Regions from separate parts of the Homo sapiens genome. Here regions 1 and 2 are each linked to region 3. The links come from fine-mapping of genetic effects on gene expression. A gene starts in region 3. Each other region holds a variant in brackets. All regions are shown on one strand. Distances are between the middles of the regions. Region 1 overlaps GAA (alpha glucosidase). Region 2 holds the start of LOC124904074 (a long non-coding RNA gene). Region 3 holds the start of EIF4A3 (eukaryotic translation initiation factor 4A3).

Evidence for each region. PIP is the estimated chance that this variant, and not a neighbour inherited with it, causes the effect.
Region 1: its variant is fine-mapped to the expression of EIF4A3 in whole blood (INTERVAL, PIP 0.93).
Region 2: its variant is fine-mapped to the expression of EIF4A3 in tibial artery (GTEx, PIP above 0.99).

What each region holds. Positions count from the first base shown.
Region 1 is chr17:80,103,807-80,111,968 of GRCh38, forward strand. GAA (alpha glucosidase) reads left to right here. Exons shown (of 20, transcript NM_000152.5): 2 at 749-1,326; 3 at 1,943-2,088; 4 at 3,751-3,916; 5 at 3,994-4,090; 6 at 4,484-4,603; 7 at 4,683-4,801; 8 at 4,891-5,022; 9 at 6,139-6,249; 10 at 6,921-7,034; 11 at 7,135-7,219. The coding sequence starts at 781. Among named protein-coding and RNA genes, the nearest start is that of GAA, 6.3 kb to the left of the region's middle. RefSeq lists an enhancer at 6,005-6,980. The variant C/T (reference allele first, on the strand shown) is at 4,616.
Region 2 is chr17:80,067,221-80,075,395 of GRCh38, forward strand. The region is part of intron 10 of CCDC40 (coiled-coil domain 40 molecular ruler complex subunit); the gene reads left to right. It overlaps LOC124904074 (a long non-coding RNA gene), which reads right to left and starts at 4,316. Exons shown (of 2, transcript XR_007065931.1): 1 at 4,012-4,316. The variant A/G (reference allele first, on the strand shown) is at 3,647.
Region 3 is chr17:80,142,072-80,150,246 of GRCh38, forward strand. It overlaps EIF4A3 (eukaryotic translation initiation factor 4A3), which reads right to left and starts at 5,057. Exons shown (of 12, transcript NM_014740.4): 1 at 4,722-5,057; 2 at 2,101-2,173. The coding sequence starts at 4,890. RefSeq lists enhancers at 4,284-4,998, 4,999-5,711, 5,712-6,425, 6,426-7,138 and silencers at 4,636-4,685, 5,526-5,715.

The DNA.
Region 1 (8,162 bases), 38 kb before region 3:
GAGTGTCACCCTCAGCTGCGGTGCCCAGGATTCCCCACTGTGGTATGTCCGTGCACCAGTCAATAGGAAAGGGAGCAAGGAAAGGTACTGGGTCCCCCTAAGGACATACGAGTTGCCAGAATCACTTCCGCTGACACCCAGTGGACCAAGCCGCACCTTTATGCAGAAGTGGGGCTCCCAGCCAGGCGTGGTCACTCCTGAAATCCCAGCACTTCGGAAGGCCAAGGGGGGTGGATCACTTGAGCTCAGGAGTTCGAGACCAGCCTGGGTAACATGGCAAAATCCCGTCTCTACAAAAATACAGAAAATTAGCTGGGTGCGGTGGTGTGTGCCTACAGTCCCAGCTACTCAGGAGGCTGAAGTGGGAGGATTGCTTGAGTCTGGGAGGTGGAGGTTGCAGTGAGCCAGGATCTCACCACAGCACTCTGGCCCAGGCGACAGCTGTTTGGCCTGTTTCAAGTGTCTACCTGCCTTGCTGGTCTTCCTGGGGACATTCTAAGCGTGTTTGATTTGTAACATTTTAGCAGACTGTGCAAGTGCTCTGCACTCCCCTGCTGGAGCTTTTCTCGCCCTTCCTTCTGGCCCTCTCCCCAGTCTAGACAGCAGGGCAACACCCACCCTGGCCACCTTACCCCACCTGCCTGGGTGCTGCAGTGCCAGCCGCGGTTGATGTCTCAGAGCTGCTTTGAGAGCCCCGTGAGTGCCGCCCCTCCCGCCTCCCTGCTGAGCCCGCTTTCTTCTCCCGCAGGCCTGTAGGAGCTGTCCAGGCCATCTCCAACCATGGGAGTGAGGCACCCGCCCTGCTCCCACCGGCTCCTGGCCGTCTGCGCCCTCGTGTCCTTGGCAACCGCTGCACTCCTGGGGCACATCCTACTCCATGATTTCCTGCTGGTTCCCCGAGAGCTGAGTGGCTCCTCCCCAGTCCTGGAGGAGACTCACCCAGCTCACCAGCAGGGAGCCAGCAGACCAGGGCCCCGGGATGCCCAGGCACACCCCGGCCGTCCCAGAGCAGTGCCCACACAGTGCGACGTCCCCCCCAACAGCCGCTTCGATTGCGCCCCTGACAAGGCCATCACCCAGGAACAGTGCGAGGCCCGCGGCTGTTGCTACATCCCTGCAAAGCAGGGGCTGCAGGGAGCCCAGATGGGGCAGCCCTGGTGCTTCTTCCCACCCAGCTACCCCAGCTACAAGCTGGAGAACCTGAGCTCCTCTGAAATGGGCTACACGGCCACCCTGACCCGTACCACCCCCACCTTCTTCCCCAAGGACATCCTGACCCTGCGGCTGGACGTGATGATGGAGACTGAGAACCGCCTCCACTTCACGGTGGGCAGGGCAGGGGCGGGGGCGGCGGCCAGGGCAGAGGGTGCGCGTGGACATCGACACCCACGCACCTCACAAGGGTGGGGTGCATGTTGCACCACTGTGTGCTGGGCCCTTGCTGGGAGCGGAGGTGTGAGCAGACAATGGCAGCGCCCCTCGGGGAGCAGTGGGGACACCACGGTGACAGGTACTCCAGAAGGCAGGGCTCGGGGCTCATTCATCTTTATGAAAAGGTGGGTCAGGTAGAGTAGGGCTGCCAGAGGTTGCGAATGAAAACAGGATGCCCAGTAAACCCGAATTGCAGATACCCCAGGCATGACTTTGTTTTTTTGTGTAAGGATGCAAAATTTGGGATGTATTTATACTAGAAAAGCTGCTTGTTGTTTATCTGAAATTCAGAGTTATCAGGTGTTCTGTATTTTACCTCCATCCTGGGGGAGGCGTCCTCCTCCTGGCTCTGCAGATGAGGGAGCCGAGGCTCAGAGAGGCTGAATGTGCTGCCCATGGTCCCACATCCATGTGTGGCTGCACCAGGACCTGACCTGTCCTTGGCGTGCGGGTTGTTCTCTGGAGAGTAAGGTGGCTGTGGGGAACATCAATAAACCCCCATCTCTTCTAGATCAAAGATCCAGCTAACAGGCGCTACGAGGTGCCCTTGGAGACCCCGCATGTCCACAGCCGGGCACCGTCCCCACTCTACAGCGTGGAGTTCTCCGAGGAGCCCTTCGGGGTGATCGTGCGCCGGCAGCTGGACGGCCGCGTGCTGTGAGTTCTGGGCTCTGTGCCAGCATGATGGGGAGGGCGACGCGCATTTCTCACACGGCAGGGAGGGCCACACGCGTTTGTTTCTCACACGATGGGCAGGGCGACACATGTTTGTTTCTCACACGGCGGGGAGGGCGACGGGCATTTCTCACAGGGCGCTCCCTGGGTCTTTTACTCACATAGGTCTAAATCCCATGTAAACACGTGTTCAGGACTCACCAAGCCCCTGCTTGTCATTTAACTCAGGAAAACTCTCAGGAACGACAGCACTTGGATTTGCCTTAATCTTAAGAGAAGTTGCCTTCGGAAATGCGTTTTTCTTTTTTTGCTCATTCATTTACTCAGTGTCCACGCACTGACCCTCCGTGCCGGGTGGTTTGGATCCTGCTCCCGGGGACAGACACACAGTGAGGGGAAGCCATAAGCAAGTCCATGCAGACACAGCGTCAGGGAGTGGTCATGCAGAGAGCACGCTAGAAGCCAGCTGTGCAGACACGGGGCAGGGAGGTCCCCTCTAGAAGCCAGCTGTGCAGACGCAGGGGACAGGGATGGCCTCTCTGGAAGCCAGCTGTGCAGATGTTGGGGGCAGGGGTGGCCTCTCTGGAAGCCAGCTGTGCAGGAGTGGGGGGTGGGGAGGCCACTCTGGAAACCAGCTGTGCAGATGCAGGGGACAGGGGTGGCCTCTCTGAGCTGACCTCTGAGTAGAGAGACCCAAGAGAAGTTTCTCAAAGCATCTTATCAAGCTAGGTATGGTGGTTCATGTCTGCAATTCCAGCACTTTGGGAGGCCAAGGCGAGAGGGTCACTTGAGCCCAGGAGTTCAAGACCATCCTGGGCAACATAGCAAGACCCCATCTCTTAAAAAATAAAAATAAAAAATTAGCTGGGAATTGTGGCACATGCCTGTGGTCCCAGCTACTCAGGAGGCTGAGGCAAGAGGATCCCTTGAGCCCAGGGGTTCGAGGTTGCAGTGAACCATGATTTTGCCACTGCACTTCAGCCTTGCTGAAGACCCCGTCTCAAAAAACAAACAACAAACAGGCATCTTATCAGATCTCGGTCTTGAAAGCACTCAGCGTAGTCTTGCCCAGGGGAGGGTGGGTGCGGTGTGAGCCCGTCCTGCGAAATTAGCTGTGCTGTGTTAACAGAGGACGCGTCTTCCTGTGGACCGGGTTTATCTGCGGCTTTCATTTCTCGGAGGTGCTGTTTGCCTTGCACTTGACCCCCAGCAAACCTCAGGGGTCCTTCTCAGGCATGGCTGGGCTGGGATCTGGGAGGACTTTGGCCACAAGCTCCTAGGCCTGGAAAGGTTCTGTTCAGCCCCTGCCCAGCCTTGCTTGGGGTCATGGGACAGGCATGTGTGCCAGTTCCGGTACCAGCCAGTTCCTGGAGGTCAGCCCCTTGGGGGCCCCTCAGGGGTGGTGTGGGCCCAGCCAGGCGGTGCGCCTCTTCTGATATGCCCTGAGAGTTGATCACGCTGGTGCCAGGGTGCCAAGGGCTGCAGGGCTCGGCACGGCCGCCTGTCCCAGGGTCAGTGTGCTGCAGGGCTGGCCAGGCCACTCCGCCCTCCCAGGGCACCAGGGCCCGGGGGTGCTCTCTGGGTGCTCTCAGGCTCGTGTGGCCCCTTGGGTGTGAGCAAGCCTGGCTGGCCTCTGTCCCGCAGGCTGAACACGACGGTGGCGCCCCTGTTCTTTGCGGACCAGTTCCTTCAGCTGTCCACCTCGCTGCCCTCGCAGTATATCACAGGCCTCGCCGAGCACCTCAGTCCCCTGATGCTCAGCACCAGCTGGACCAGGATCACCCTGTGGAACCGGGACCTTGCGCCCACGGTACAGCGGCGGGCGGCGGGCGGGGGCACTGAGCTGGGGAGCGCAGGTGCTGAAGCGCCGTCTCCTGCATGTCCCAGCCCGGTGCGAACCTCTACGGGTCTCACCCTTTCTACCTGGCGCTGGAGGACGGCGGGTCGGCACACGGGGTGTTCCTGCTAAACAGCAATGCCATGGGTAAGCTGCCCGCCGCCCAGCGCCCGGGCCGGGGTCTCCTCCGTGCTGCCTGCCCTGGAGACTGGAGGTCCGCATGAGGGGCCCTGGGCACGGTGCTGGGCCTTGTGTTTTCTGGGAAATGAGTCCTATGGGCTGATGCCTCTCCCAACTCTGGCCTTCTGTGCTCCTAAGGAGGGTTCTGGGGCCCTGCCTGGAGGTGGGCTGGCACCACATATCTTTCCGTCCCATGCCAGGTTCCTCCTGAGTCAGGCTTAGCACGGCTTCCCCAGGCCACTCTGAGCTCCTCGTGGGGAGAGAGCCTCAACTCTCCGCCTGTGATTGGCCCATCTGTGGGGTGCAGAGCCCTCCAAGTGAAGAATCTGTCCCCCAACCCCAGAGCTGCTTCCCTTCCAGATGTGGTCCTGCAGCCGAGCCCTGCCCTTAGCTGGAGGTCGACAGGTGGGATCCTGGATGTCTACATCTTCCTGGGCCCAGAGCCCAAGAGCGTGGTGCAGCAGTACCTGGACGTTGTGGGTAGGGCCTGCT[C/T]CCTGGCCGCGGCCCCCGCCCCAAGGCTCCCTCCTCCCTCCCTCATGAAGTCGGCGTTGGCCTGCAGGATACCCGTTCATGCCGCCATACTGGGGCCTGGGCTTCCACCTGTGCCGCTGGGGCTACTCCTCCACCGCTATCACCCGCCAGGTGGTGGAGAACATGACCAGGGCCCACTTCCCCCTGGTGAGTTGGGGTGGTGGCAGGGGAGGCAAGGGGCTGGCCGGGACGCGTCTCCTCAGGCCCCAGCAGACGGTCCCGTGTTGTGGCTGCAGGACGTCCAGTGGAACGACCTGGACTACATGGACTCCCGGAGGGACTTCACGTTCAACAAGGATGGCTTCCGGGACTTCCCGGCCATGGTGCAGGAGCTGCACCAGGGCGGCCGGCGCTACATGATGATCGTGGTGTGTGCCCCCACACTGTGGGTCTTTGGGAAGGGGGCCGCCCGGTGCCCAGTGGCTCCTTCTCTGTGCAGCGTCATCCTCGTGCCTGTGTGGTCGCCGAGGATGTTTTCTGAGGGTCTTTGTGATATCGAGGGAATATCAAGAAGTTTGCAGGCTTGGCCCCAGCTGTCCAGGGAGGTCGGGTTTGAGGGTCCCCAGAAATGGCCGGGTGCTACTCAGGGTTCTGTCAGATGTAGGTTACTTGAACTGCCTTAAAGCAAAAGGCCAGGGGCATGATAAACTGATGTCACCTGGTCCTGGAAAGTGGAGGGCCCGGTGGGCCTGGGCATGGGTATCGCTGGAACTGTGGAGGCTCCGTGTGCCTTCTGGCCGTGCCTCTCCTTCTGGCCGGCTCTGAATCCCTGGAAAGGACGGCGTGAGTGAGGGCAGCTTCCAGCCCTCATGCTGGCACCACAGAGCGGAGACTTCTTCCCATCAGCTCCCATAGAAAAGTCCCAAAGCAGGACTCTTGAGTCACCCAGCACAAAGAGGCCCTTCCCTGAGCCAGTCCCACAGCCAGAAGGATGCAGTTTGGGGGCTGGTCCAGCCCGAGTCTGGTGTCCGGCACGATGGCCAGAGGAGGAGGTGGGAGGCAGGGCGAGCTGAAAAGATCCAACAGTTCCTGCCCGGAAGATCCACTTCAGCAGAGGAAGCACAGATGAGATGTGGGGCTGTGCTGATGCTGCCTGTTTCCATCCCTGCCTTCTGCAGGCAGCAAACAGTAGTAGCCCTTAAGAGCAGGAGTGGAAACACAGACTTTTTTCTTTCTCACATTTTTTTAATTATAAAAGAAAAGTGATTACTGTAGAACACTTGGGAAACTCTAGAGGTTTAAAGAAAAGGTAAAGGTAAAGCTTCCATTCCGGCGCGCCCCTCATCAGCCAGCTGGTCCTGACTCGCCCGGCCCTGGCTCCTCTCCAGGCAGGCGTGTGCAGGCATGTGCAGGTACACAGGCAGGCATGCTGTACACACGCATGATGTCATCCCCAGCCTCATCCTCTCACTGTCTCAGTTTTCCCCGTGGCTGGCGCCAGGGCTCTGGGCCACCCTCACCTTGACAGGTTTCCCTCTTCCCAGGATCCTGCCATCAGCAGCTCGGGCCCTGCCGGGAGCTACAGGCCCTACGACGAGGGTCTGCGGAGGGGGGTTTTCATCACCAACGAGACCGGCCAGCCGCTGATTGGGAAGGTAGGGCGAGGGTCCAGGGGACGGGGGTTAGAAAGCAGAGGCCTCCAGCCAGGGGGAGCCGGCAGCTGCTCAGGAAGACGGTGGGATTTGAGGAGCCATCACGCCCAGTGGGACAGCTGAGAGGAATGGGCCACAGTGGCCCGTGACGATGGTGGCTCCTACAAGGAATGGCCCCGTGAGTTCTTCCATCAGCAGGCCTTTGACTTCATGGGCAGCTGGGCCTGGCCCAGGCACAAGCCCTGCAGACCCTCAGTGAGGCCTTAGGGTCCTCCTTGTCCTCCCAGCCCCCCAGGGGCCTCCAGGCAGGGCCCCCGCTGAGGGAGCAGCTAGGGAGGGTCTGGTGCGGATGTGAGGCTGCCTGGCAGGGCTTGCACGGGGCCGTCTCCGCTGCCCTTCTCCCTGACGCTCTCTGGTTCTGCAGCCCAGCCCCTGGGTGGACGTGTTGGGGGTGACCCCTCGTTTTCCCAGGGTTGAGGCCCCTTGGCCCCGCATCAGTGCCTTGTGGAGAAAGAGCTGCTCATTGACCTCCAGGGTGCAGGTCTCTCAGATTTGCAAATGTGGGCGTCCACTAAGAGTGAGGCTGCCCCTCTGCTCAGGCTGAGGCTCAGTGGGGCTTCCATGCAGGCCCTGGGTGGGGCCGGGTCTCCCCACTGCAGCCTCTCGTTGTCCAGGTATGGCCCGGGTCCACTGCCTTCCCCGACTTCACCAACCCCACAGCCCTGGCCTGGTGGGAGGACATGGTGGCTGAGTTCCATGACCAGGTGCCCTTCGACGGCATGTGGATTGTAAGTGTGGCCCCCTCCTGAGCATCCCCAAGGCCTCTGGGGACTACCCCACCCTCCTCACTCTGGGCAGAGTCACCTACCAGCAGCGCTTCTCTTGCAGGACATGAACGAGCCTTCCAACTTCATCAGGGGCTCTGAGGACGGCTGCCCCAACAATGAGCTGGAGAACCCACCCTACGTGCCTGGTCAGCTCGCCCCCCACCTACCCTGGGGACTTAATCAAATCAGAGACTCCCTTGTCTGGCCTGGGAGACTTAGCACCCTCATCTCTGAGAAGCAGATGGGCCAGCGGGGAAAGGGGCGGGGGGGGGATCCCCAGGAGAAAGGCTCAGGCTGGGAGACTCAGCCAAGCAGTGCAGACAGGGTGGGTGCAGAGGCACAGGCCCTGCCGGAGGAGACGCCGCTCACAGGTGCTTGCCAGAGCACAGTGAGGCCGACTCGACTCAGAGCCGTCTCGATAGGCGCAGGGACCATGCAGCGGAGACCTACCCACCCGTGGGGAGAGGTCAGGCCCAACTCGAATGCAGCACGGGCAAGTGGATTTCTAGCCAGGGAGCAGGGTGGGCTCAGAGGCAGGAATTACCAAGAAGAAGCATGGGGGTCAGGGGGATTCTGGCTGAACTGACCCAGCAGGATTCTTGCTGAAGGCAGGCCAGGGTGACCAGACATCGCCTGAGGGGTGGTGGAGGTTGGGGCTTCTCGCCAAACTGTCTTAGCAGGAATGGCAGAAACTGGGTTTTACAAGGAAGTACAAGGATGGGCCTGGGAGAAGGTTTGGGGGCCTGAGGCTATAGTTTGGCCCAGCAAAGAATCAGTGAGAGGATGGGGTTTTGGGCTTAGGTAAACAGGCAGGGGAGTGCTTGAAATGGGCCAAGAGACGGTGGATGTGAAGTCTGGGGGTCTGCAGAGCCCAGGCTCCAGCACCCGCCCAGCCCTGTCTTAGAAGCAGTGGAGATGATTACCCAGGTTCCCGGGTAACGCCAGCCCCACAGAGGCGTGGGGAGCGGCTGCAGGTGCACCTCCAGGGCCAGCCTGAAGAGGCAGCGACCTGCACAGGGGCTCCTGGGAGGTGGGGGGCAGGGAGGGCACCTTGGAGCCTGCCGGGAGGAAGCTCCCTGGAAACCAGCC
Region 2 (8,175 bases), 75 kb before region 3:
CCTCTCTGCAAACCGTCCTCATTGCCCTCAGAGACATGGCTTCCTTTTGGTTGCAAACATTGTAAAAATCGTATTCGATCAGGTCTCCTCCTCCTCGGCCCGCAGTCACTAGAACCCCCTCCCAAGACAAGCAAAGGCACCTGGTTTTCTGGGATCCCCTGCCTAACTTGTGTGCAATTGCAAGAAAGCATATGCGTTCACCCGGAGTCTTCCTTCCCTCTCTTGCTCCGTGGGAGCACACCACACTCACTGTTCTGCACCTCTTTGCTTTTTCCATTTAACAGCGTGTCCCTAGAGCGCTTCCCAAGTCAAAATATAAACACCGCTCGTTCCCGCCTTTCTACCACATGGCATTCCGCTGGGATACTTCTACGGGGAAGCTTCCTGCCCGGGGCATCGAGGGCGTTCGCGTCCGTCTGTTATGGCGGTGCTGCTGTAGATAACCGGATCCGCGAATGCTAACGCTCACCAGGATGCTATATAGCCTTTTTTATATTGCCTATCAAGCCCGGAATGTCTGGGTCTAGCGGGTATTGCTAAGTAGGATTGTGACAGTCACGCCCCCGGCAGCGGTGTTTCAAAGTCCCCTGACAGCTCAGCATGTTGTCACACTTCAGGACTGTGCCAATCCGATTGATGAAGAAAATAGATAATCTTGTTTTATAAAACGTGCATGCGCAGAATGTTGAGTGAATATTTTAGTGGACTATGTACACGCACAAACACTTCACAACGAGTGAGAGAGCCTCTGACTTCACCTGCAGCTTGCCACACCAAGGCCCCGGGGAGGAGTGAGGCCCAACTTTTATTTATTATATTTTTGTGGTTCTTGCAATGGAGTCTCGCTCTGTCCCCCAGGCTGGAGTGCAGTGGCACCATCTCTGCTCACTGCGACCTCCGCCTCCTGGGTTCAAGCGATTCTCCTGCCTCAGCCTCCCAAGTAGCTGGGATTACAGGCGTGCACCACCACGCCTGGCTAATTTTTGTATTTTTAGTAGAGACGGGGTTTCACCATGTGGGCCAGGCTGATCTTGAACCCCTACCTCAGGTGATCCACCCGTCTTGGCCTCCCAAAGTGCTGGGATTACAGGCGGGAGCCACTGCGCCCGGCCAGTCTTTTAAAAGTGCAGGCCGTGTAGAACATTGTGAGAAGTATAAACTGTAATTACAGAGATTTGCTGTTTGCACCCAGATAGATTTGAAGAAGCAACTTGGAGACAGGTTTAATAGATCAGGGCCATTATTACAGAAATAAATTATTGCATAGCTTAGGACTTCCAAGCTAGGAGTGCAGTGACTGAACTATACCTCAAATATTGACCTTGAGATGTTCAGATTTGTAGAGCATCTTAGAAAATGGTGACATTCCTGGCTGATGGTCAGGATGGTGCATACCAGGCCGGTACCCTGGTGGCTGTCTGGGCATTTCTGGAGCCTTCACCCTGCGAGATCCCCATGGGGCAGGACCCCCTGGCCCAGAAGCTTGGTTTTGCCATCACACCGAGAAGGCACACTTGTCCTGGAGTTAGTTTACATGAATCGAGCTCACCAGAGCCTGACGTGTAACTGAGTATAATAGCCCATTTATGTGCATGATGAAATATAAACACCAAAGAACCGAATGCTCCACGCTCGGACTAGCAGATTCTTATCTGTGGGGGAGGACACAGGAGCGGATGACACAGACCCCTGCTCAGGGACCGGCTAGAGGGCGGAATGCCTGGGCCCCGGCCCTGTCTGCTTCCTGCTTCTTCCCCGAAGTTCATGGCCTGTCCGTCCACATGGGCGGGAGGTGTCCCGCGAGCAGCCCTCACCCTGACCTTGGCTGCTTTCTCCATTCCATTCCCCACCCCTCCTCCCTCCTGACACCCATGGCATTTTTTCAGATAAGTTAATACCTTTGATTAGGTTCCAGCCAAACCTCACCCTTTCTCTTTCCCCATGCCTTTGTGTCTCTCTTCGTCTGATGTCGAGTCTACAACCTAATGCTTTGAAGACAGACTGACTTCCCCGTCCTTGGTCAGGGGGTTGCTGCTGCGTGGGGGGGGCGGTAACCATAATCTTGCCCCCGTGTCTCATACACAAGCTGCAAGCTTAGCTCAGAAGCTGTGCCTGTCTTGGCTGCTTTTTCTTGCTGTCTTCCCTATTTTTGCAGGAGTTTTGCACACGGTCATAAAAGTTCAGGAGAAACATGAAACGTGTTATTCTGTTTCCTGTTTAAGTCGACCTGAGGAAGCTGAAGGGGTCAGGCGCGGTGGCTCACGCCTGTAATCCCAGCTCTTTGGGAGGCCGAGGCGGGCAGATCACGAGCTCAGGAGCTGGAGATTGAAACCATCTTGGCTAACATGGTGAAACCCCGTCTCTACTAAAAATACAAAAAAACAGCCAGACCTGGTGGCGGGCACCTGTGGTCCCAGCTACTCAGGAGGCTGAGGCAGGAGAATCGCCTGAACCCGGGAGGTGGAGGTGGCGGTGAAGCAAGATGGTGCCACTGCACTCCAGCCTGGGTGACAGAGCGAGACTTCGTCTCAAAAAAATAAGAAAGAAAAAGAAAAAAAAGAGAGAGAGAGAGACAGAGAGAGAGAGAGAAAAAAAGAAAGAAAGAAAAGAAAAGAAAACTGAGGGCTTGCCCTAATCTCCTAGACTTCCTTTTCCCTCAGTCCTGATGATGGCAGAGACGACTCCTCAAAGGCTCTTCCCCTTGGCATGGAGTGCTGGAGCCTGCCCTAGGGAGGGAGGACAGGATGGAGCAAGACACTGAACGCAGAATTAGAGCTAGGCAACGAGCGGGTGATTTCACTGTTTCCTGGGTAACAAGCCCCAGGCTCAGCTCGGTCTGGTGTAGCCCCTCAAAGGGGACACTGTCCTTGCCCCCAGTTGATGGAGGAGGAAGGAGCGGAAGGCAGTGTGGGATGGGTTGGGTGTGGGCATTGCCACAGTGTCCCCAGCAGGCCTCCTTCTAGCCTGGGGATCTGGCAGGTGGGTCCCAGTCACCACCAATGCCCCATATACCCAAGGACACTGGTGACCCAGCAGACCTGAGGCCACAGACCAAAGACAGAGTAACAACCCCATTAAAAATGTGCCCCCATGGGCGGGCATAGTGGCTCCTGCCTGTAATCACAGTGCTTTGGGAGACTGAGGCAAGAGGATCCCTTAAGCCCAGGAGTTCAAGACCAGCCCGGGCAACATAGTAAAGTAAGACCTTGTCTCTAAAATAAAATATAAAAAATAGCCAGGTGTGGTGGTGTGTGCCTGTGGTCTCATCTACTTGGGAGGCAGAAGCAGGATGATCACTTGAGTCCAGGAATTTGAGGCTGCAGTGAACTGTGATTGCACGAATGCACTCCAGCCTGGGCAACAGAGCAAGACCCTGTCTCTCAAAAAATTTTTAATTAGCGGGGCATGGTGGTGTGCACCTGTAGACCTGTAGTCCCACCTACTCGGGAGGCTGGGTGGGAGGATTGCTTGAGCCCAGGAGGTCGAGGCTGCAGTGAGCCGAGATGGTGCCACTGCACTCCAGCCTGGGCAACAGAGCCAGAGCCTGTCTCAAAAAAATAAAAAAGTGTCCCCAGACACAGGGGCATGGGTGAGGCCTGTCAGGACTGCTGTGGTAGCTCATGGTGTCCTGTCCCTTCTTCCCACC[A/G]GGGAATGACCGTGGCTGTGGGCACACCCCCTGTCCATCTGGGCCTGCCTGTGGGAGCTGGACACTGCCCTCCCCAGCAGCCAGAAGTCCTGAAGGAACCGTGTGTGACCCTCAAGACCAGACCGGGCCTGCCACACCAACCCTTCAAAGACCGCAGCGGTCCAGGCAATCCAACGTGGGTCCCAAAGCTAGGTGAATAACCACGAGGAGCCCACGGTCAGCCCCTTCCCATCACATACGCAGGGAAATGGGTCACTTTCACTTTCAGAAAACAAAGCCTGGACCGCACTTAACTTGGAGGCAGATAACCTAATCAGAATTCACACACGCCTGGGACTTGGAGCCAAAAGCACCCGTGCTCTTACCTGCCTTTGTCCTATTTCCTGGCGGGAAATACAGAGGGCAGACAGGTCTTGGCCCGCAGCCACAGCCCCTTTACCCCAAGATGTGACTCGGTCAGCCACACGGCCTCACAGCCTCCTCCCAGGCCCTCAGCTGTGGCCACGGCAGCCAGGCAGGCCGACCCAAGGACAAAAGCCACGGGCAGTGTCCTGGGAGAGAACCCGGCCTTGACCACAGGCTGCTGGACACCTCCTGTGTCCCCCCCTTAATCCTCAGAGGCACGGTGCCCAATGCCTGGGCCATATTCCAGATTCCATCCGTTCTTTTTGTTTCATTTACAGACAGTCCCCGACGTCACGATTTTTGGACTTTACCATGGTATTAAAGCAACAGGCAGGCAACAGAAACTGGGCTTTGAGTCCCACACAACCTCCCTGGTTTTCAGCACGGTATTCAATAAATTACATGGATGCCCCACACTTTATTATCAAACAGGCTTCGTGTGAGATGATTTTGCCCACCTGTAGGCTCATGGGAGTGTCCTGAGCACGTTTGAGGGAGGCTGGGCTGAGCCGGGGTGCCTGGCAGGAAATCTGCAGGAAGTGCATTTTGGGTTTTTCAGCTTTTTTTTTTTTTTTTTTTTTTGAGATGAAGTTTCACTCTTGTCGCCCAGGCTGGAGTGCAATGGTGCGATCTCAGCTCACTGCAACCTCCACCTCCTGGGTTCAAGTGATTCTCCTGCCTCAGCCTCTCAGGTAGCTGGGATTACAGACATGCACCACCACCATGCCCGGCTGATTTTGTATTTTTAAAAGAGACGGGGTTTCACCATGTTGGCCAGGCTGGTCTTGAACTCCTGGCCTCAGGTGATCTGCCCCCACTTGGCCTCTGAAAGTGCTGGGAATTACAGGCGTGAGCCACGGCACCAGCCTGCATTTTGGACTTAGGATATTTTCAACTTACGATGGGTTTGCCGGGCTGCATCCCCACCGTAAGCTGAGGAGAACCTGTACTTTCTATTGGTGCCTGCTGATCTACGGAGTTTTTAAAGTACGATTTAAAAAAATAATAATCCTTATCAAGGATAAGTGATTGCGTTACAGGACATTTGAAAAACAGAGAAAAGGATTTAAAAATACCATCGACTTTCTCTTTTTGTGACAAGAAGACTCATTAGCATGTCAGCACACTCTCAGGCACACATTTCCCCGAGTGTTAGGAGTTCTGTTGCACAGTTTGTAACTGTATCTTTTTAAATTGGGCATCTTATTTTTATTGTCAAATTTAGACATTTATAAGGCTGCTCCTTCCTAAAAAAAGAAAATGAGTAACTTATTTACTTGAAGTCAGGATGACTGGGGATAATTTATGTACAAAATTGCATACCTCCAGCCCTGGCAACCGCTGTGCCGCCTTCTGTGCCTATAGCTCTGCCATTTCTAGAATGTCATATAAATGGAATCGCGCAGTCTGTAGCTTTTCTTGTCTGGCTTCTTCCACTTGGCATCATGCTTTTGAGACCCACCCATGTTGCAAGATCAGTAGTCTGTTCCTTTTTATTGTTGAATAGTATTCCCTTGCACGGATACATCAGATGTATTTGTCCATCCACCAACTGATGGACATTTGGCTTTTACCTTTGGAATACCGTGAAGAAAGCTGCTGTGGCTGTCCTGAAAAGATCTTTGCATGGAGACGTGTTTCCGTTTCTCCCGGGTAAATACAGGCGCATCTCGTTTCAGTGTGCCTCGCTTTCTCCTACTGCGTGGAATCGCTTTTGTTTGTTTGTTTGTTTGTTTGTTTGTTTGTTTTTGAGATGAGTTTCACTCTGTCACCCAGGCTGGAGTGCAGTGGGGCGATCTTGGCTCACTGCAACCTCCACCTCCCGGGTTCAAGCAATTCTCCTGCTTCAGCCTCCAGAGTAGCTGGGATTACAGGCACATGCCACCATGCCCTGCTAATTTTTTGTATTTTTTAGTAGAGACGGGGTTTCACTGTGTTAGCCAGGATGATCTCGATCTCCTGACCTCATGATCCACCCGCCTCAGCCTCCCAAAGTGCTGGGATTACAGGAATCGCATTTTTTACAAATTGAAGGTTGACGGCAGCTCCGTGTGGAGCAAGTCCACCGGCACCATCTCTCCAGCGGTGCGTGCTCACTTCCTGCCTCTGCACCACATGTTGGTCGTTCTCATAATATTTCAAACTTTTTCATTGTCATCGTCCGTTATGGTGATCTGTGATGAGTGACCTTTGATGTTAACTATTGTAATTGGTTTTTGGCAAAGCCACGAACTGCCCTTGTTTAAGACAGCAAACTGAATCAAGACATGTCGTGTGTGTACTGACTGCTCGCCGGCTGGCGTTCTTCCATTTCTGTCCCTCTCCTTGGGCCTCCCTATTCTCCAAGACTCAACAGTATTGAAATTAGGCCTACAATGGCCACTAAGTGCTCAAGTGAAAGGAAGAGTCTCATGCCTCTCACTTTATTTTTATTTTATTTATTTATTTTTGAGACACTCTGTCCCCCAGGCTGGAGGGCAGTGGCACGATCTTGGCTCATTGCAACCTCTACCTCCCGGGTTCAAGCGATTCTCCTGCCCCAGCCTCCCGAGTGGCTGAGATTGCAGGTGCCTGCCACCGTGCCCGGCTAATTTTTGTATGTTAGTAGAGACAGGGTTTCACCATGTTGGTCTCGAACTCCTGACGTCAAATGATCTGCCTGCCTCGGCCTCCCAAAGTGCCGGGATTACAAGTGTGAGCCAACGCTCCTGGCCGCCTCTCACTTTAAATCAAAAGTTAGAAATGATTAAGCTTCATGAGGAAGGCATGTCAAAAGCTGAGATAAGCCAAAAGCTAGGCCTCTTGCACCAAAGGGATAGCCAAGTTGTGAACACAAAGGAAAAGTTTTTGAAGAAAATTTAAAGTGCTGCTCTAATGAACACACAAAAGAAAGGGAAGCAGCCTAATTGCGCGTCTGGAGAAAGTTCAGGTGGTATGGACAGAAGATCAAACCTTCCGGCCGGGCGCGGTGGCTCACGCCTGTAATCCCAGCACTTTGGAAGGCCCAGGCAGGCGGATCACGAGGTCAGGAGATCAAGACCATCCTGGCTAACACGGTGAAACCCCGTCTCTACTAAAAATACAAAAAGTTATCCAGGCATGGCGGCAGGTGCTGAGGCAGGAGAATCACTTGAACCCAGGAGGCGGAGGTTGCAGTGAGCCGAGATCGCGCCACTGCACTCCAGCCTGGGCAACAGAGCGAGACTCTGTCTCAAAAAAGAGAATGCACCTGGTGGGCATGCTAGCTCAAGTAATCTCAGCACTTTGGGAGGGCAAGGTGAGAGAATTGCTTGAGGCCAGGAGTTCTAGACCAGCCTGGGCAACATAGCAAGAGCCTGTCTCTAAAACCGAAAAAAGGAAAGAAAGAAAATGTACCTGGTCACCCAAGAGTTTTGATGGAGCTGGAGCTGTGCAAGATGAATGTTGTTTCCACACCTGTAACACAGCATTTATTCTGCAACCCATGGGTTGAGGAGTAATTTCAACTTTCAAGTCTTACTATTGCAGTAATACAGTCTGTAAAGCTATAGCTGTCATAGATAGTGATTACTCTGATGGATCTGAGCAAAGTAAGTTGAAAACCTTCTGGAACAGACTCACCATTCTAGATAACGTTAAGGATATTCGTGATTCATGAGAGGAGGTCAAAATATTACTCTTGGTTTTTTTGAGGTGGAGTCTTGCTCTGTTGCCCGGGCTGGAGTGCTATGGTACGATCTTGGCTCACTGCAGCCTCTGCCTCCCGGATTCCAGTAATTCTCTTGCCTCAGACTTCTGAGTAGCTAGGATTACAGGTCCTTACCACCACACCTGGCTAATTTTTTATATTTTTAGTAGAGATGGGGTTTCAACCGTGTTGGCCAGGCTGGTCTTGAACTCCTAACCTCAAGTGATATGCTCACCTCAGCCTCCCAAAGTGCTGGGATTACAGGCATGAGCCACCTCAGCCTCCCAAAGTGCTGGGATTACAGGCATGAGCCACCGTGCCTGGCCCAAAATATTACTTTTTTTTTTTTTTTTTTTGAGGTGGAGCTTCTCTTTTGTCGCCCAGGCTGGAGTGCAGTGGCACGATCTCAGCTCACTGAAAACTCCACCTCCCAGGTTCAAGCAATTCTCCTGCCTTA
Region 3 (8,175 bases):
AGCCACAGACTCTCTAACTTCAAGAGGTGTTTCATAGGTGTCAGAAAAAGGAGGACTCCCCTTTATCTAAATACAACTCTTTTCCTTCTAGGATTTTGGACTAACTCTCTCTTCCAAAGAAATTTTTGTGTAAATGAGTCTTTTTTGAAATTAGGCAAACGAGGAATAAAGCTATTAAAAGAGGATTTGTGGTGCTAGGAGATATGGCTATATACAAGTTTTCATCCATAGTTCCTGGCTCACAGCTCCCATAGCCCTTATTACAGTCTTATTAAATTGATGGGTTAGGCCTCAGGAAACAATCTCTCTGACCTTCTGCTCTCCTTTCACCTGCTCCACAGCAGGGCTCTAATCTTCCCTGCCTTTCAGATTGTGAGTCATAAAGACCCTCATGTCACGGCGTGGTGGCTCAGGCCTGTATTCCCAACACTCTGGGACGCAGAGGCAGCATTAATTGAAGCCAGGAATTCGAGACCAGCCTGGGCAATACAGCAAGAGACCCCATTTCTAAACAAAACAAAAAACTAACCAGGAACGGTGGCACATTCTGGCAGTCCCAGCTACTTGGGAGGTTGAGGCGGGACGATTCCTTAATCCTCGAAGTTAGAGGTTGCAGTGAGCTATGACTGCACCACTGCATTCCCGCCTGGGTGACGAAGTGAGGCCCCATATCTTAACAAAAAAAATGTTTAGGCCGGGCACAGTGGCTCACGCCTGTAATCCCAAGGCTTTGGGAAGCCAAGGCAGACAGATTGCCAGGAGTTTGAGAGCAGCCTGGGCAACACAACAAAACCCTGTCTCTACAGAAAATACAAAAATTAATTGGGCATGGTGATGTGTGCCTGTAGTCCCAGCTACTTGGGAGGGTGAGGTGGGAGGATCGCTTGAGGCTGCTATGAGCTGTAATCACACGACTGCACTCCAGTCTGGGAGACAGAGTAAGACCCTGTCTCGAAAAATGTAAAAAATTTAAATTTCAAATTTTTTTTTAAAAAGCATTATGGTATTATCCCAGAAAAGCTCCTGCCCTATTCCCTTATGGGGGAAAGAATGCTGACCTCATGGAATTTTCCATAAAAACCCAAGAGGACTGGGTTCGAAGAGCTTCTAGATGGCTGAACACAGACAGTGGAACACAAGGAGGTTCCGGGAGGTGACCACCCGCCCCTTGGAGGCTGCACCCCTCCCCCCATATCTGTATCCTCTGCAGTACCCTTTATAATAAACCACTAAATGTGTTTCCCTGAGTTCTTTGAGCTGCTGTTCCAGCAAATTAATCCAACCTAAAGAGGGGATCCTGGGAACCCAACTTGAAGCTGCTTGGTCAGAAGTTCTAGAGATCCGAACTTATAACTGGTGTCTGAAAAGAGGGTAGTCATGGGGACTGAGCCGTCAACCTGCAGGATATGGCCTATCTCCAGGCAGGTGGTGTGAGTTGAACTGGAGGACACCCAGCTGGAAAAGCCCCACACCTCTGCTCACAGAAGTCTTCTTCTGTGCTGATGACTGTTGTGGTGGTGTGAGAGCAGAGGAAAAGCACAGTCTGTTTTTCCGAAATTGTGTTATATACAATTCCACATGCCAGCAAACCACTAAGCAAAGCTGGCTAAGAAAATGAAAGCCTTGGCCGGGCGCAGTAACTCATGCCTGAAATCCCAGCACTTTAGGAGGCCAAGGAGGGTGGATCACCTGAGGTCAGGAGTTTGAGACCAGCCTGACCAACATGGTGAAACCCCCGTCTCTACTAAAAATATGAAAATTAGTCGGGCATGGTGGTGCATGCCTGTAATCCCAGCTACTTGGGAGGGTGAGGCAGGAGAATAGCTTGAAACTGAGAGGCAAAGGTTGCAGTGAGCCGAGATGGCACCACTGCACTCCAGCCTGGGCAACAGAGCGAGACTCCATCTCAAAAAGAAAATGAAAGCTTTCCACAGTAGAGAACACAAATTTAAAAAAGTATTAAACCCTGTGGCTAAAGTCAGGGAAAGTGTTGGAACTGAGCGTGTACAAGCTGAGGGAAACAGTCATCCCAGAGCATCTAACTGCACTGCGCTGCCCAAATTTACATCCAGCCCTGCGCCGCACCCCAGGACAACTTACTGTGCGATGACATCTCTCCCTTTGATGATCTGCTTGATTGCTCGTTGCTGGATTGCTGATGGTTTTTCAAAACCTGCAAATAAAAACAAAAAATTAGCCCTCACCACAATGACAGCATAGAAACCCTGTACTGTGAGCTCCTCAGGGGCAGACATGGTTTGTTTTTTGAACCTGTCCTCCAGCCTAACCCAGTGTTCAACATAGCAAGCTCTCAAAACCCAGGGGCTCAATGAATTGGGCTGAGTGATTTCTACACTAACGTGGGATATTATTTGTAAAGACCAATCTCTATTTTTAAAAAACCACCAAATTGTAGAATATAGACAACAGTTTTGTTTAAAAAAAAAAAAAAATCTGGGTGTGCAGCATCTGGAAGTGTAAGTGCCAAAATGTTCCTGGCAGTTACTGCAGTAGAGGGGTGGAAAGAAACTTACTTTTTACTCTAATTACTCCCTTAGGTTTGACTGGATTACAAACAACCTATACTACTTTTTAAATTAAAAAAAAAAACAACAAAAAAACAGGAAAGTCACTCTAGCCATTGTTCTCTCCTACTAGCTAGCATTAAGTCTGTGTGTTGCTGACAGGTCTACAACTCTGTTTAACCTGCGTGGGTCACGCTGCAGGGTGTCCTATGTTGTTCTGTCTGGATGCAGCTCACTAACTACAACACCATCACACCATCTCTCTTGCAAAGCAACTACTACACCAAAGGGTGAGGCTATTTTGAAGAAGAACCACGTGTTTTTCAAGTAAATAAAATTTTATGTACAAAAACTCTATTTCAATTATTTTTTGGTAGTCTCTTAAATGTAGCTCTGCTCAGTTCTGGGGCATAGCGAAAAATAAGAAACAAAAGAAAATGTAGCACAATTTCCCATCTTAACACAAATGCAAATATAGCAGATGATTTAAACTCTTCATGAAGAGCAAGCACATAGATGGGAAACTAACAACAGTGTCTTAGGGCAGGGACTGCCTGAGTGCCAGGAAACCAGGTGGGGCTGTCAGCCTCACTGTGAGGCTGCCTGAGATGCTTTTTCACCACGCATCCTCAGCAACTTCGCTTCACTTTGTCCAAACTGTTGTGGCATCAAGAACTACAGGATACGGCCAGGTGGGGTGGCTCACACCTGTAATGCCATCACTTTGGGAGGCTGAGGCTGGTGGATCACTGAGGTCAGGAGTTCAAGACCAGCCTGGGCAACATGGCAAAATCCCCTCCCTACTAAAAATACAAAAATTAGTAGGACGTGGTGGCCCACACCTATAATCCCAGCTACTCGGGAGGCTGAGGCAAAGGAATCGCTTGAGCCCCAGAAGTGGAAGTTGCAATAAGCTGAGATCATGCCACTACACTCCAGCCTTGGTGACAAGAGCAGGACTGTCAGAAGGAAAAGGAAGAAAGAAAAGGAAGAGAACTACAGGATAAAAAATGTCCCTGTCCCAAGCATTAAACACAGGCCATTTATCCCAGATGCTGGTCATTCCCATCTATGTGCCCAACCCAACCTCTTCTCCAGGCTCTCCCTCAACTTCCTCACATCTTTCAAACATACCAAGAGACAGCTCCTGATTCTGACTCTCTGGAGTGCTGCCTACCTAGCCAAATGTTTGCAGCATCAACCACCGGTTACTCAAAACACTCCAACTCTCCTCCTTCTGTCACTCACGTTCAATCCATCAGCCAATGCTGTCAGCTCCCTGGTACTCCATCTCCAAGGCAGCACAATCCTCTCTTCCCTGAACTGCAGCAAAAGCTCCCAACTCTCTTGTTTCCTCTCCTGCCTTGCCTCGCCTCACCTCAAATCTACAGACACCCAGAAGAATCTTTAAAACTGTAAATGTGATCGTGTCACATAGCTACTTAAAACCTTCCACTGGCTTCCCACTAGATTTCTAAATGAAATTCAAATTATTCGTCACCCTACACGTCTTTGCTAGATCTGCCCCGACTAGCTCTCCAAAATCCCACCACAGGGGACTTCTTTCAGTTCCTGGAATGCAGCTGGCTAAGGGCTGCAAGGCCCTGGCACCAGCTGTTCCTTCTGCCCCAACTGCTCTTCCCTCTTCTCATAACAGTCTCCTTCATCCAGAACTCTGCTCAAATGGCACCCCCTCCTGCGAACCCCCTTACCTCTCTGCTTTACTAATTCTCTCCTCCTTCCCAGTCCCACTCTATTCAATTACCCCGCTTCAGGTTCTTCAGGTTGCCTGGGCAACCTGACAGTATGCTTTCCCCCCAAACGAAATTCAAAACCCGTAAAGGCGCAAACCCTTCCGGTTTACCGCCAAAACCCCAGTACCTAGAAAAGCTAATAGGTAGAAATCAGTTATCTGCTGAATGAAGGACGCTGAGGTGCCTCGAAGCGGCTGCAGCCCCCGACAGACCCAGCGCCGAGCTCTGCACGGGGGACACACACCGAAAGCGCCGACACAGCCAGGCGTGAGGGCGAGGACGGGGGTGGGGGTGGGGGTCGGACGTCACTGGCCCCCGAGCCTCGACCCTGACCACGACCTCCGGAGCGCAGGGCCGGCCCGGGAGTCACCAGTCTGGCCCTCAGCCCCCGGCTCGCCCCCGACTCGCCCCCGGCTGGCCCCCGCGGCCCGCGCCCGCTCACCGTAAGCGTAGATGCCCCGCAGCAGGTCCTCCCGCAGGCCCATGGTGTCGAACGTGGGGGTCACATCCACCTCCTCGCTGGTCTCGAATTCCACTTTAGTCATGTCTTCCTCTTTGAGCAGCCGCTTTCGCGCCGAGCCCGAGGTCGCCATCGTGGCCGTGGTCGCCATGATTCAGAGTCCGCGGAAGAGCACAGCGCGCGCCGCTGCCGACCTCGCTGCCGCTGCCGACCTCGCTGTGCCGCTGCCGACCTCGCTGCCGCTGCCGACCTCGCTGTGCCGCTGCCGACCTCGCTGTGCCGCTGCCGACCTCGCTGTGCCGCTGCCGACCTCGCTGTGCCGCTGCCGAGAACAGACGCCTTAAGTATGCGAAAGCGAGAGACGTGCGTGCGTACGTGCGTACGTGCGTACGCGCGACGCGGCCACGCCTCTGGGGGACGGGGCACTCTTCGTCACGTGAAAGGGAACTGGGCGTTTGCCGCAGGGAAAAGTAAGGTGTTTCTGCTCTCGCGCCATATGCAGTTCCCGCGGGATCTCGTTGAGGGCGGGGCACCCAGTTCCTTACGAAAGGGATGGAGGGGGTGGTACTTCTAAAGTTGGCGGTGTTTCGTACCGGCCGCGGGATTTCGCGGACTGGGGCGCTGAGGTTCTTTGAGCGGCGTGTGGACCTGAATTCCCTGGAAACAGGCTGGGGCCGCGAGGGGCCTCCGCTCCGGGCGGGGTCCCCAGATAGCCCCGCCTCGAATAAAAATGACGAGCACGGGTCCTCTCTCGGGCCCGCAGTGGGTGGACTGCGTCGCAGACCCGTAGTGGAGGCGCCCAGCTCGCCGGGGAGATTCGAGTGGAAACCCTCACGGCCGCCGGTGGTGGGCCCCGGCGCGGCGCTGGGCTCCGGCGGGTCTGCGCTGGGGAGGGCCAGGGCCCCTGAAGCCGGCGTCCCTCTTAGGGGACGCGCCTGGGTGTGTCTTCACCGTTTGCCTGGTGAGTTGGAGACAGGGTCTCGCTCCGTCGCCCAGGCTGGAGTGCAGTGGTAGGATCAGGGTTCATTGTAGCCTCCGCCTCAGCCTCTGGAGTAGCTGGGACCTCAGGCGCGCGCCACCACGCCCGGCTAATTTTTTAAATTTTTTTGTAGAGACGGGGTTGGGGGAGGCGGGGGTTAGGGTTGTCCTGGCTGGTCTTGAACTGCGGGGCCTCAGGTGATCCGCCTGCCTTGGCCTCCCAAAGTGCTGGGATTACAGGCATGAGCCACTGTGCCCGGCAAGCAGCTGTTATAAATAAAATACATGCTGAGCCTGCAATTTGCTCTTAATGAAGGCCACTTGTCAGTAGACGGTGCTGCTAATGCGTGTCCTGCAGCAAAGATAACCCAGACGGGATCATTTTTTAATTGCCCAGCAGAACTTTAACCAGTTGTGCATCTTAACCTGCTTTTTGTTTGTTCGTTTGTTTGTTTTGAGACAGTCTGGCCCTGTCGCCCAGGCTGGAGTGCCATGGCGCGATCTCGGTTCACTGCAGCCTCCACCTCCCGAGCACAGGCGATCCTCCCGCCTCAGCCTCCAGAGCACCTGGGACCACAGGTGTCCACGCGCAGCCACTAACCGCTTTCTTATCTGACACTTTAAGTGCTTCTTCGTACCCAGCTCCTCTAACGCCTTTTGAAGCAGCTCCATCATCTTTGAAGGGCAGTTCATGCTGTTGAGAATCATGTTTTTAACTTTGGGAAAATTGTATTTCCACGAGCGCCAGCTCTGTCCTTTTTTTTTTTTTTTTTTTTTTTTTTTTTTGACGGAGTCTTGCTCGGTTCGCCCAGGCTGGAGTGCAGTGTCGCGATCTCAGCTCACTGCAAGTTCTGTCGCCCAGGTTCACGCCATTCTCCTGCCTCAGCCTCCCAAATAGCTGGGACTACAGACACGCGCCACCACGCCCAGCTAATTTTCTGTATTTTTAGTATAGACCGGGTTTCACCATGTTGGCCAGGATGGTCTTGATCTCTTGACCTCATGATCCGCCCACCTCGGCTTCCCAAAGTGCTAGGATTACAGGCGTGAGCCACCGCGCCCCGCTATTTTGTGTGTGTGTGTGTGTGTGTGTGTGTGTGTGTGTGACAGAGTCTCGCTCTGTTCCCCAGGCTGGAGTGCAGTGGCGCAATCTTGGCTCACTGCAACCTCTGCCTCCCGGTTCAAGCGACTCCCCTTCCTCACCCTCCTGAGTAGCTAGGATTACAGGCATGCACCACCACGCCCGGCTAATTTTTGTATTTTTAGTAGAGATGGGGTTTCCCCGTGTTGGTCAGGCTGGTCTTGAACTCCTGACCTCATGATCTGCCCGCTTCAGCCTCCTAAAATGCTGGGATTACAGGCATGAGCCCGGTCCTGTCCTTTCTTATGGTCACAAATCTGGCTTGCATCGCTGGGCACATCTTTAATCCACAGCTTCTTTCTAGGAGTGCTTGAAAAGCTCTCCTTTTATGAAGGTTAATTTTAGTTAAAACCAGAGCATCCTGGCCAGGCCTGGTGGCTCACGCCTGTAATCCCAGCACTTTGGGAGGCCGAGGCAGACGGATCATGAGTGTAGGAGTTCGAGAACAGCCTGGCCAAAATGGTGAAACCCCATCTCTACTAAAAAAAAAATACAAAAATTAGCTGGCCGTGGTGACGGGTGTCTGTAGTCCCAGCTACTCTGGAGGCTGAGGCAGGAGAATCTCCTGAACCCCGGAGGTGGAGGTTGCAGTGAACCGAGATTGCGCCACTGCACTCCAGCCTGGGCGACAGAGACTCCATCTCAAAAATAAACAGAAAACCAGAGCATCCTTTTATCAAGAAGTCGGTGGATTGCAGTATTTCAAGGGTGAACAAGTAAATGCAGCCTTCTCCAAGAGTGAATCTCATTCTGGCACCAGAATTTATCCATGACAGATAATTGACCTTCTGATAAACATTCCTTGTAAGGATGCTGGTGTTACCCAAAATATTAAATATTTATAAAGCTGAATAAAATGTAAGTTCTGATACCTTCCTCACTCTACAAAGGATCATTTCGTGCCTCACACTGTTTGCCAGGCCGTGCTGTAGCGCTTTGTCGTAAAATACACACAGATTTCAATGACTTAACGTAGGAGAAGAATGTAAAATACCTTGTTGACTAAAGAAAAACAGTTAAGCTTTTAAAGAATTAAAGTTAGTTTTATTCAGAAGCCTTACTGAGGACCGTACATCCTGGCCCCAGCCCAGGAGCTCAAGCGATCCTCCTACCTCAGCCTCTCAAAGTGCTGGAATCACAGGTGTGAGCTACCAGGCCTCTCACCTTGTTCAAAGTTAAAATCTAATCCACAAACTGCTTAGATTTGTTTTCCTTCATATTTTTATGACTAGATGATCTAACATTTTACACCATTTTTCTGGAAATGTTGTTTATGCCAGGTGTCTGAACACACATCTTAAAGGGCTCTAACTTTTC